Regions from separate parts of the Homo sapiens genome. Here region 2 is linked to region 1. The links come from fine-mapping of genetic effects on gene expression. Tissue or cell type: whole blood. Region 1 holds a variant in brackets; the other region holds the start of a gene. All regions are shown on one strand. Distances are between the middles of the regions.

Region 1 (6,480 bases):
TAAAATATGGGATTTCTGTGTAATATTAAACTTTGTATAAAGTATATGGGGCACACAATGGGGCTTTTCACTAAATATTTCCTATTCTCCTGGATAGATGGTAGGATTGCATCCTCTCCCTGGTCAAAGCCAACTAAGTGTGAGCGGAAGTGATGTGAGTAACTTTGAGATGGGAATTTTAGGAGCCAGTGTTCAGTTAGCTACATTCTTTCTCCCTGCCTCCAAGTGAGGAAGCATGAGTGGAGTTGGAGCCTCTATCAGCCTGGGTCTTTGAGTGACTATGAGGATCAGAGCTTCTTGGTAGATTTGTTGTGGACATGTTTAGTGATAGATAAACCTTTGCTGTTAAGCCAGTGGGATGTTGGGGTTGTTATATTGAAGGTTTAACTTAAACTATTCTAATTGAAATTTAAAAGAAGAATGTAGCTGAATGTGCCATACCTCTCAGGTAGATTTTAAACACTTTTTTATATTCACACACATCCTTTGCAAAATGTAACCTTAAAATTAGAAAACATTTAAAAATGTGAAATGCACATGAAGTTTTATTCATGCGCATGTTTTTCTCCTGCCCTTTTTCATCTCATCAGATCTTTCCTAGGTGGGTTCGTGTTGGCAGCAATACAAATGCCTAACCGAGCTGTTCTTCATACTTTGCTTTTAGGATCTCCTGTATATACAGCACCAGAAGTTGTGAGGGGTGCTGACTTTTCCATCTCCAGTGACCTCTGGTCTTTGGGCTGTCTGCTTTATGAAATGTTTTCAGGTAATTGTTTCCTGAATAGGTATAAAATCAGAGCTGGACTAAAAACCAGGTTAAGTCTGTACTTTGCAGATGTTTTACCTATAAGATGTGAAAAAACTAGATTTTTTTTTATTTTGAGACAGAGTCTCGTACTGTCACCCAGTCTGGAGTGCAGTGGCACGATCTCGGCTCACTACAACCTCTGCCTCCTGGGTTCAAGCCATTCCTGTGTCTCAGCTTCCCGAGTAGCTGGGCTTACAGGTGCCCACCACCATGCCTGGCAGTTTTTTCTATTTTTAGTAGAGAGCGGGTCTCACCATGTTGGCCAGGCTGGTCTTGAATGCCTGACCTCAAGTGATCTGCCTGCTTAGGCCTCCCAAAGCTCTGGGATTATAGGCATGAGCCACTGTGCCTGGCCAAAAAAACTGTGACCTTATAAATTTTTATGTATACTGATTTTGGCTGAGTTGCTTGGTATCTAGGCATATGCAGATTCCTAGAAAGTTCTTGATAAATAGGTAATTTTTCATGATAATCTGGAATGCTGAAATGTGCCTAACTCAAAAATTGTGATTATTAGAAATTTTTGTAAAGATGCCTTGCAATTGTGTATTATTCAGATGATTTGAATGGCCCATGCACCCATTGGTTCATAGTAGTGGTCCATATGTGTGTTTGTGTATTTGTTAGGATGATAATACATTTTGAAGTAAGAGAAATATATAGGCAGTGCCTCGTACATACTAGGCATTAAATAGCTATTGCTATATATTTTTTCTATAAGTTGTATAATCTTGAAATATCTGTAGTTGAGATTAGAATTATTGGTGATAGCAAGGCCAGGTGTGGTGGCTCACGCCTGTAATCCCAGCACTTTGGGAGATCGAGGCGGGCGGATCACGAGGTCAGGAGATTGAGACCATCCTGGCTAACACGGTGAAACCCCATCTCTACTAAAAATACAAAAAATTAGCTGGGCGTGGCAGCGTGCGCCTGTGGTCCCAGCTGCTGGGGAGGCTGAAGCAGGAGAGTGGCCTGAACCCAGGAGGCGGAGTGTGCAGTGAGCCGAGATTGCGCCACTGCACTCCAGCCTGGGTGACAGAGCAAGACTCCATCTCAAAAAAAAAAAAAAAAAAAAAAAAGAATTATTGGTGATAGCAGACTTCTTTCATTTTGCAAGTTTTCATGTGATTTCAGGAAAACCTCCATTCTTCTCAGAAAGTATTTCAGAATTAACTGAAAAGATCTTATGTGAAGATCCTTTGCCACCTATTCCGAAAGGTAAGATTTCTTATGATAAATGGAATTAATTTACATTTTACACTGATTAAAGGTGTACCTTTATCCAACGTTTGCTTTTATTGATTCATAACTCCCCAAAGTTATCTTTTATAAATGATCCCAAGTTGATATTTTTAGAAATGTTAGTATTTCTTTTGCCATTTTTTAAAGATGCTGAAACAGAAAACAAAGTACTAATAGATTTCCCTCATTTAAAAACTATTTTGTGCATCTATATCATAAAAAGTATGGCTTAAAGACTTAAAAAACTTAAACCCTTATGTGACATTGCTTTTTGTATGTACCATTTACTTACTTTGTAGTCGTATCCCATGTGGTTATTTCTATCTCCTGTTGGAACAAATTCACCATTTCCTTATCTTGATGAATCAGAATGCTACCCTTATAAGTTTTAAAAATCTTTATTTATTTATTTATTTATTTATTTATTTATTTATTTATTTATTTTTGAGACAGAGTCTTGCTCTGTTGCCCAGGCTGGAGTGCAGTGGCGTGTTCTCGGCTCACTGCAACCTCCGCCTCCCGGGTTCAAGCAGTTCTCCTGCCTCAGCCTCCCGAGTAGCTGGGACTACAGGTGCCCACCACGGCACCCGGCTAATTTTTTGTTTTTTGTTTTTTATTAGAGACGGGGTTTCACCATCTTGGCCAGGCTGGTCTCAAACTCCTGATGTCATGATCCACCCACCTCAGCCTCCCAAAGTGCTGGGATTACAGGCGTGAGCCACTGCGCCCGGCCTAAAAATCTTTAAAATTAGATACAGTTGTATTATTTTTAAAGTGTTGGAACTTTAATCATATAAATTGTGGTTAATATAATGATCTATCAGCAATAATTTTTAAGGAAAGGAAAACAAAAGAAGGCACAAGTGTAGTAAAACATTTTGCTATAC[A/G]TTGTTAAAGTTTATCTTAAGACACATAAATGAAAACAGGATTCTACAAAAATTATTGCTATATATACATATATATATATTTGAGAGACAGGGTTCTGCTGTGCTGCTGTGTCACTCAGGCTGGAGTGCAGTGGTGCAGTCAACCTCCCAAGTAGCCGGGACTATAGGGGCACACCACTGGGAATGGCTAATTTTTTAATTTTTTGGTGGAGACAAGGTCTTGGTATGTAGCCTAGCTTGTCTTGAACTCCTGGCCTCGAGTGATCCGCCTGCCTTGGCCTCTCAAAGTGCTGGGATTTCAAGTATGAGCCACAATGTGTGGCCATTACTACTACTTTTAACCATAGACTGATGACCTGGATATGGTATATAACTAATTTAAAAAGACAAAACATTATGAGATTAGTGGTATTGGACAGTGTCATATTATAATGCTTCTTATTTCTGTTAAAAATCTTAAAAGAGGGATTGCAAATATTCTTAGTTGTTCAAGTTAGGAATACTTAAAAGAATAAGGTATAATTAATAGTTAAGCTGGGGCCGGGCATGGTGGCACACACCTGTAATCCTAGCACTTTGGGAGGCTGAGGTGGGTGGATCACCTGAGGTCAAGAGTTCACGACCAGCCTGACTATCATGGTGAAACCCTGTCTCTACTAAATACAAAAAAATTAGCCAGGCATGGTGGCACATGCCTGTAATCCGAGCTACTTGGGAGGCTGAGACAGGAGAATCGCATATACCTGGGAGGCAGAGGTTGCAGTGAACTGAGATCGCTCCATTGCACTCCAGCCTGGGCAAGAAGAGTGAAACTCATTCTCCAAAAAAAAAAAAAAAAAAATAGTTGGAGCTGAGCATAGTGGCTCACACTTGTAATTGTAATTGCAGCACTTTAGGAGATCCAAGGCAGGTGGATCACTGGAGCCCAGGAGTTGGAGACTAACTTAGGCAGCATAGTGAGACCCCATCTCTATAAAAAATAAACAAAAATTAGTCAGGCATGGTAGTGCATGCCTGTAGTCCCACCTACTCTGGAGGCTGGGGTGAGAGGATCACTTGAGCCTGGGAGGTAGAGGCTGGAGTGAACCATGATGGTGCCACTGCACTCCACCCTGGGTGACAGAGCAAGACTCTATCTCAAAAAACTCCCCCAAAATAGTTGAAGACAAGTGTTTGAGTTTGTTAAGCTGGTGATCCTTATTGGGATTGTTCAGTGAAGAGAAGGCTTAGAGGTTTGTTAAGACTTAGTTTTTGAGATTTACATTTCTTTTTTGTGATCTAGGAAAAAATGTTTTTAATCTTTGTGTTCTGTACCTCCCCATCCTGCCCCATTAAATAGAGGATATAATTGTTGTTAATGGATTTAGTGTTCTCTTAATAATAATGTATGTGTTTAAAATACTATTGCTTTAAATGTTGATGTAAGAGATAAAAATAAAATTGATATGTATTTACTACTTATCATTTTTTCTTGGAAATTAATTCATTTATAGATTCTTCTCGTCCTAAAGCTTCTTCAGATTTTATTAATTTGCTTGATGGGTTACTTCAAAGAGATCCTCAGAAAAGGTAGGGACAGTAGTTCGATCTTTTTTTCTTTTTCTTTTGAGTTCTGCAAATGGAGTAAGGGGCAGTATTTTAATGGGAATAAATAATGAAATCTTTTCCCCCTTTTATGTACTTCTAAAATGGTGCTGTTCTTAATATACAAATAGCTATTCAAATTATTATTTTTTAAAGAAGTCTGACTTCGGATTAAAAGTTTTTCTCTCAGTTTGCAGGTGTTTTTAATCATGAGGAATTTTTGAAGTCAGTTTCTCTTTTCATGTATTAAGTAGTTGACAAATTTTCTTATAACTCCCAAATCCAAGAGGTACCATTTCTTGTATTTTGTATTTCAGGCTAAAACTGTTTGACTATTGACCGAGGGATGATATTGTCAAGTTAAGATGCTGTTAACTGAGTGTCATAAAAACAGGTTTTATGACACTCCTGTCATAATGGGGCTATTAAGTGATAGGATAATAGGCACCTTGTGAATTTTCTGTCAGTGATGGCAATGTTAGAAATCATTGTTGAGGCACAGGGTAGGGGAGGCTAGGAGGTAGACCAGAGTGGGAAAGAGGCCCAAACAACTAGTTTCTAGTTCTGGTTCTGTCACTAGGTAACTGGGATGGGGTGATGGGAGGAGGGTTCCGTTTATAAAATGGAGAATAAATTTAGTGTAGCATATACAAGAATCCATTCTTTTATTAAATATATTTTAAAAACTGCAGAAGGAAATGCTGATTTTTGTATAAGCTGTAGGACAAACATCCTTTACTTATATTAGAATGCTTTCAACATTAGTGTTATTTTGGTGGATAATTTTTCAGACATCTTTTGATAGGATGTAACTATACCTAATTTACTTAAGACGGTGTATCCACATATCCCTACATTTATAACTGTATGCTATATAATTTTTTGCTTACATGGGACCACTCCATAACCTACTTTTTTCTCTCATGGTACATTATGCATATTTTTCCATTTCCATTTCTGAGTCTTGCTCTGTCACCCAGGCTGGAGTGCAGTGGCACAATCTTGGCTCACTGCAACCTGGGTTCAAGTGTTTCTCATGCCTCAGCCTCCCAAGTAGCTGGGATTTCAGGCGCGTGCCACCATCCTCAGCTAATTTTTGTGTTTTTAGTAGAGATGGGGTTTCACCATGTTGGCTATGCTGGTCTCGAGCTCCTGGCCTCAAGCAGTTCCGCCTGCCTCGGCCTCCCAAAGTGCTGGGATTTCAGGTGTGAGCCACTGTACCTGGCTGCCTGGTCATTTTAAATGGCTGTAGAACGTATATACAATTACCTATAAAAAAGTAAACGTTTAGAATGCCTCTTGATTTGGAATATTATATGTGTTGTTACAGTAAATATCCTTTTGTGAATTTTTAAAATTTTTTTGGGTTTACTTGGTTAGTTATCTCTTTGATGTGAATTTCTCAAAATGAAATGGCTGGCCAAAGGCTAAGAGCATTTAAAAAGTTTGATACATTTCCTGCATTCTAGGAACATGTGCTGATTTACACTCCCAGCAACAATATGTTAGAAAGCTCCTTCCCTCCCACTCTCATCTACAGTGTGCCTTGTTGATCTACATTTTTGTCAGTTTGATGGATGAAAATACATTTTACTTTGTTGGCTATTTTTATTTCTCCTTTAGTGAACCATAAGAACCTTTGTGTAAAGGAATATTATATGTGGTTGCAAATTCTATTATTTGTGTTTTACTTTTGATTGAAGTAATTTTATTTAATACAGAAATTTTGAATGATTAGTCGACTATAAATTCTTTTCTTTTTTGTTTTAAAATTTCAGTCAGGCTTAATTTTCCCACTCTGGTGAGTATATCTAGAGGTATACTCTATTAGTAGTGAAACTTAATCTTTTGAAAGTGAGCCTGAGTTTTAAATACAACCTAAAGTCATTTTAATGCAAGTGAACTAGCTAGGTAATATTATTTTGATTCCTAAACAAGGTGTGAATGTATATGGTTATG
Region 2 (5,624 bases), 45 kb before region 1:
TGGTTGACAAAAAGAGTTAAACTCTGTAAAATATTTAAAGAGATTTATTCTGAGCCAAATCTGAGTGACCATGGCTCGAGGCACAGTCTCAAGAGGCCCTAGGAACATATGGCTAATGTCTCACGTGTCCGTGTGAAGAGACCACCAAACAGGCTTCGTGTGAGCAACAAGGCTGTTTATTTCACCTGGGTGCAGGTGGGCTGAGTTTGAAAAGAGAGTCAGCAGCGGGTGGTGGGATTATCGTCAGTTCTTATAGGTTTTGGGATAGGCGGTGGAGTCAGGAACAATGTTTTGCGGGCAGAGGATGGATCTCACAAAGTACATTTTCAAGGGTGGGGAGAATTACAAAGAACCTTCTTAAGGGTGGGGGAGATTACAAAGTAAATTGATCAGGTAGGGTGGGGCAGAAACAAATCACAATGGTGGAATGTCATCAGTTAAGGCTATTTTCACATCTTTTGTGGATCTTCAGTTGCTTCATGCCATCTGGATGTATACGTGCAGGTCACAGGGGATATGATGGCTTAGCTTAGGCTCAGAGGCCTGACAGCTAAGGTGACTGAGCTGCAGCTCGGTTTTACATGTTTTACGGAGAAATAAGACATCAATCAATACATGACATAAGGTATTGGTTGGGTCAGGAAAGGTGGGACAACTCGAAGCTGGAAAGAGCTTCTACATCATAGGGTGGATTTAATAGGTGATTGGTGTTATGCCACGACTACGCCAATTGTCAGGTTCCAGCCCCCAGCTGAGGTCCAAGGGGAGTGGGTGGATGGGCGAATAACTGAAAGAACACAAGGAGGGTTGGGGGCGTGTAGGCAAGTGAAATGTAGTTTTATTCAGCGGCTGTGTCATCAGCAGCTTAATCACACTAGCTCTCTCACACTGTCCACCTTTATCTCGGCTGTCTGTTCTGGCTCTGTGGCTCCTGTTGCCCCCATGCCTGCAGCTGCACACCCTGGCCTGCAAAGCCAGCTCTGTCAGGGTCAGCAGCTTAACTCTCCCTCTGGGCACAAGCTGGTTCCTGGCTCGGCTCCCCTCTGCCCACCTTAAGGGCAACCGCTCTCCCTTAGAGGGGTTAGTAGCATTACTCTGGGCACCAGTGCACGAACCGGGTCGTGTCGTGCTGAACTCAGACCTGGGCACAGTGTCAGCAGGGCAGTTATACCTTCTACAGACAATAGTGGCTCAGATCCAAGTATGAACTTACATAAACGGGTTACATAACAAGTGGAATATGCGCCTGTGTCCTAAACTCGCTGAGCCACTCTGGCCCGGATGTCCACCTTGGCCTATTCCTTGACCAAAGCACATCCATATACCCTACAATTGGCAATTGGTTAAAAGAGTTATTATATAAAGACCTGGAGCCAATAGAAGGCAGTGTCTGGGTTGAGATAAGAGGTTGCAGAGACCAGGGTTCTTGTTCTGCAGATGAAGCCTCTATGTAGCAGGTTTCAGAGAGAATAGATTGTAAATGTTTCTTATCAGACTTAAAACAGGTGTCAGGTTCTCAGTTAATTCTCTCCAGCATCAGGGAAAAGACCTGGAAAGACAAGGGGATTCTTTACAGAATGTAGATTCCCCCCAGAAGAGATAGCTCTGCAAGGCCATTTCAAAATATGTCAAATAAATATATTTGGCCAGGCACGGTGGCTCACACCTGTAATCCCAGCACTTTGGGAGGCCAAGGCGGGTGGATCACCTGAGGTCAGGAGTTCAAGATGAGCTTGGCCAACACAGTGAAACCCTGTCTCTACTAAAAATACAAAAATTAGCTGGTGTGGTGGCACACGCCTGTAATCCCAGCTACTTGGGAGGCTGAGGCAGGAGAATCACTTGAACCCAGGAGGTGGAGGTTGCAGTGAGCCGAGATTGCGCCACTGCCCTCTAGTCTGTGTGATGCAGCGAGACTGTCTCAAAAAAAATATATATATATATACGTATATGAGTATATATGTATACATAAGAGTATATGTGTGTGTGTGTTTGTCTATGTGTGTGTATATATATATCAGGATAAAATACTTCAATGTCTTTTGGGGCCTGCTGCCATGTTGGTATCTTATTGCTGCAAAAAAGTCTGTTTTGTCAGTCTTAAGGTCTCTGTTTAATGTTAACGCTGGTCAGCTGTGCCTGTATTCCAACGGGAGGAGGGTATAATGAGGCCTGTCCCACCCCATCTTCCCATCATTGCCTGAGCTAGTTCTTCAGGTTAACTTTGGCGTGCCTTTGGCCCAGAGGAGGGATCCACTCAGTTGGTAGGGGGGCTTGGAACTTTTATTTTTAGTTTACACAATCAACTTGAGATCAGAGTGTCTCATCTGTTTCCTCCATCTCCAAAAAGGAAGGTAATTCACAGCCTTCTCTTTTCTAAATGGTGAGGACCCCGGGGCCCCTGCTTCTGAGGCGTTGGTTATCCAGACTATGCCACCATGTCTACCTGAGCTCCCAGAAGAAGCCAGAAAGAAAAGAATGGAAGGAAACAGAAGGACAGTGGGAACGGGAAGAGAAGAAATGACGAGGTCTCAGTTCTCCACACTCTAGCCTCAGCACCCACTTAAGATTGAAGAGTAGTCCCTCACGGGCTCCCACTTCGGACTCTGGCCAATAGGAACTGAGACTCTTAACCAATCAGCGCTTTGCGTTTTTCCAGCGTTCTGCGTGCTGCCATGGAGATGGAATGAGCAAATCCAAACATAGAGGGATGGTGGGCCGACCACTATGACTGTTACTCCAGCACTTCCCGCCCCAGTCTCTGGCCTGTGGGCTCGTCCAAAGGCAGGGCGTGATGCCCTTTGGGTGGAGGGAGGGGCCCTCGTGGTCTCTCACTTCCGGGCCCCAGCCAACAGGAACGGAAACTGCACAGCCAGTCGGCTTCCTGAGCTTCTTCCGGCGTTCTGTGTGCTGCCGTGGAAACCGTATGGACGAATCCAAACCTGGAGGGGCGTCGCCTCCGTAAGGCTGGTCGGCTTCTTCCGCGCGTTCCGCTTTGCTTCACTGCTTTCTCCCCCATTCTTGGGCCTGTGGACCTGTCCTGAGGCAGAGGCCGAGATGCGCGCAACCGCGGGAGCAGCCAAGTGGACTGGACTCTTTTCTTGACTTAGCTACCAGGTGCGTGGCAGTGGCGGTTTTAGTAGCTACGAGTCTGAGTTCGTGTCTGCCTAAGCGGTCGCGGAAGAGCGCGCAGGCCTGCCGGGGCGGGTGGGTGGTGGCGCCTGGCCGCCCTCTCTCCTTCTGCCAGTGGACCCCGTACCCCCTGCGCTCCCCTGCTTTGCGCTCGTGTTAAAAAAGCCGCCCGTTTTTATCCGGGCGTTAGTTAAGGGCACACGGGACGCCTCTTCTAGGACCTGGGTGCAGCGGGGAGAGAGAGTGCTTGTGTGTTTCGGCTTGGGAGATGTGCTTTATGGACGCCATCTCTTAACTTCCCAGAGCGGACCGCGTCTTCACCGCCCTGCAGCGCTTCCTAGGCTCCCAGCCGGTCTCGCGGACTGATGCCTACGGACGTAGCGAGGCCGCGAAAGCCGCCGATTCGCCCGCCGCGAGTTGCCTGGGGAGCGGGGGGGGGGGGGGGGGGGGTGAGTGACTACGTAGCGCCCCTGAGTCTGTGATAATTGAGTCTGTGAAGTGCGGCGAGGAGGAGCACCTATGGAGTGCTTAGTGTGGCGCGCGCCATCGGTTACATCTCGGGGTTGATTTGGCTGGCATTTCGCAGACTTGAGCGCATCCCAGTCACCCCAGGGCGTGTAGTAACACAGAAGGCCAGGCCCTACCGCCGTAGTGTATGATTCCGTAAATTTGGGGCAGGGCCGATAACTTTTTCTTTTGTATTAAGTCCCAGGTGATGCTCATGCTTCTGGTGCGGGAGTCATGATTGTGCTGAAAGTGGGCACCTGTGCGCTCTTATCACCTGTTCGCTCTCAGCGTTCCTTGAATGTAGGACCTGCCCCCGACTCTTAAATGCCTCATTTGCACCTGTATGTGATTTGCTCTGCCTTCTGGCTTCTTAGATGCTTCTTAGGTGAACTTGTGAATTAAGAGAGACTTCCTTAGGAGCACTATAGGTTAAGAGACTAAACTGTGGTTTCTGGGAAAGCACACTCGAGTGAGAAAACCATGAAGAAACCTAAGGAAGTGATGACTACGAAAGTCAGGGGGTGGTTAACTTTTGGGGATCAGGAGGGGTGGTGATTGAGACAGGCTCACAGAGGGGCTGCTTGTGTGGCTGGCAAAGTCCTATTTCCTGACTTTGGGTGGTGATTAGAAGGGTGTCCCTCTTTAGTAATTCATTAAACTATGTATTCTGTGGAGTTTTCTGTACTTGTGTTTTATTTTATAATTAAGAGGTTACAGCTTTAAAAATGAATATTAGGAAGTCTGTAATGGGGAACGTGTTTGGACTGAGTCAAAGAATCTTAAAGTCATGGAATTTCAACTATTAATAAGTTATTGAAAGATAACTTAGTGCCAGGCGCGGTGGCTCACACCTGTAATCCTAGCACTTTGGAAGGCCGAGGCAGGCGGATCACTTGAGGCCAGGAGTTCTAGACCAGCCTGGGCAACATAGTGAAACTCCATATCTACCAAAAACACAAAAAATTAACTGGGTGTGGTGGTGTGCCAGAGGCTGAGGTGGCTACTCTGGAGGCTGAGGCACGAGAATCGTTTGAACCCTGGAGGTGGAGGTTGCAGTGAGCCTAGATCTTGCCCCTGCACACCAGCCTGGGCCACTGAGTGAGACCCTGTCCAAAAAAAAAAAAGAAAATCATTTGATCCAATTCTTATTTTACTCTAAGGAAACAGCCTTAGAGAGGAGAAATGCTTGAAAGTAACAAACCACCCTATCTAAGCAGATTTATAACTAATGTGTTTTGTTAATTTCAGACTGAAATTGTCCACATGTGACTTGATGGTCAGATGTGACTAAAGATTAAGGAAATGAATTTGGCCTAAATCAAATTCAAAATTTCAAGATGGGCTGGATGGTGGCTTGCACCTGTAATTCCAGAATTTTGGGAGGCTGAGGCAGGAGGATTGCTTGAGCCCAGGGGTTCAAGACCTAGCCTCCTTTAAAAAAAAAAAAAATCAAGATTTTACTTAATTTTTTCCCTTGTAGCCTAAAACCTTATTTTCAAGAAATCAGTTATACATACTGTATGAAAACTTATTTTATCATCTTATCCTGAGATATCCTAATGTAGACAATTTGTGAACACTTAAGGTTTCTGATTATATTTTTTCTGGCTTAGTAACTTCCCATCTTAACATACTGTCAGTTTAATCTTATTTTGGTTATAATACATACCATATAGCTGGGACTACAGGCATGCACCACCATGCCAGGCTATTTTATTTGTGTAGAGTCGGGATCTCACCATGTTGCCCAGGCTGGTCTTGAACTCTTGGCTTCAGACAATCCTGCCTCCACCTCCGAAAGCGTTGGGATTACAGACATGAGGCACTGTGCTAGGCCAGGATTGGTTCTTTTTAATGAATGGGTTTTAGAACGAAGAGGGATGTAAAAAGGACTTAGGGAAACCGTCATTAAAAGAAAGATACTAACCAGTGCCTTTTTGTTTTTAATTAATTAATTATTATTATTTTTTTTGATATGGAGTCTC

Evidence for each region. PIP is the estimated chance that this variant, and not a neighbour inherited with it, causes the effect.
Region 2: ULK4 starts here. The variant in region 1 is fine-mapped to the expression of ULK4 in whole blood (INTERVAL, PIP above 0.99).

The regions. Positions count from the first base shown.
Region 1 is chr3:41,914,003-41,920,482 of GRCh38, reverse strand. ULK4 (unc-51 like kinase 4) reads left to right here. Exons shown (of 37, transcript NM_017886.4): 6 at 665-766; 7 at 1,943-2,026; 8 at 4,431-4,506. Among named protein-coding and RNA genes, the nearest start is that of ULK4, 45 kb to the left of the region's middle. The variant A/G (reference allele first, on the strand shown) is at 2,938.
Region 2 is chr3:41,959,509-41,965,132 of GRCh38, reverse strand. It overlaps ULK4 (unc-51 like kinase 4), which reads left to right and starts at 3,030. Exons shown (of 37, transcript NM_017886.4): 1 at 3,030-3,117. RefSeq lists enhancers at 2,701-2,750, 2,901-3,060.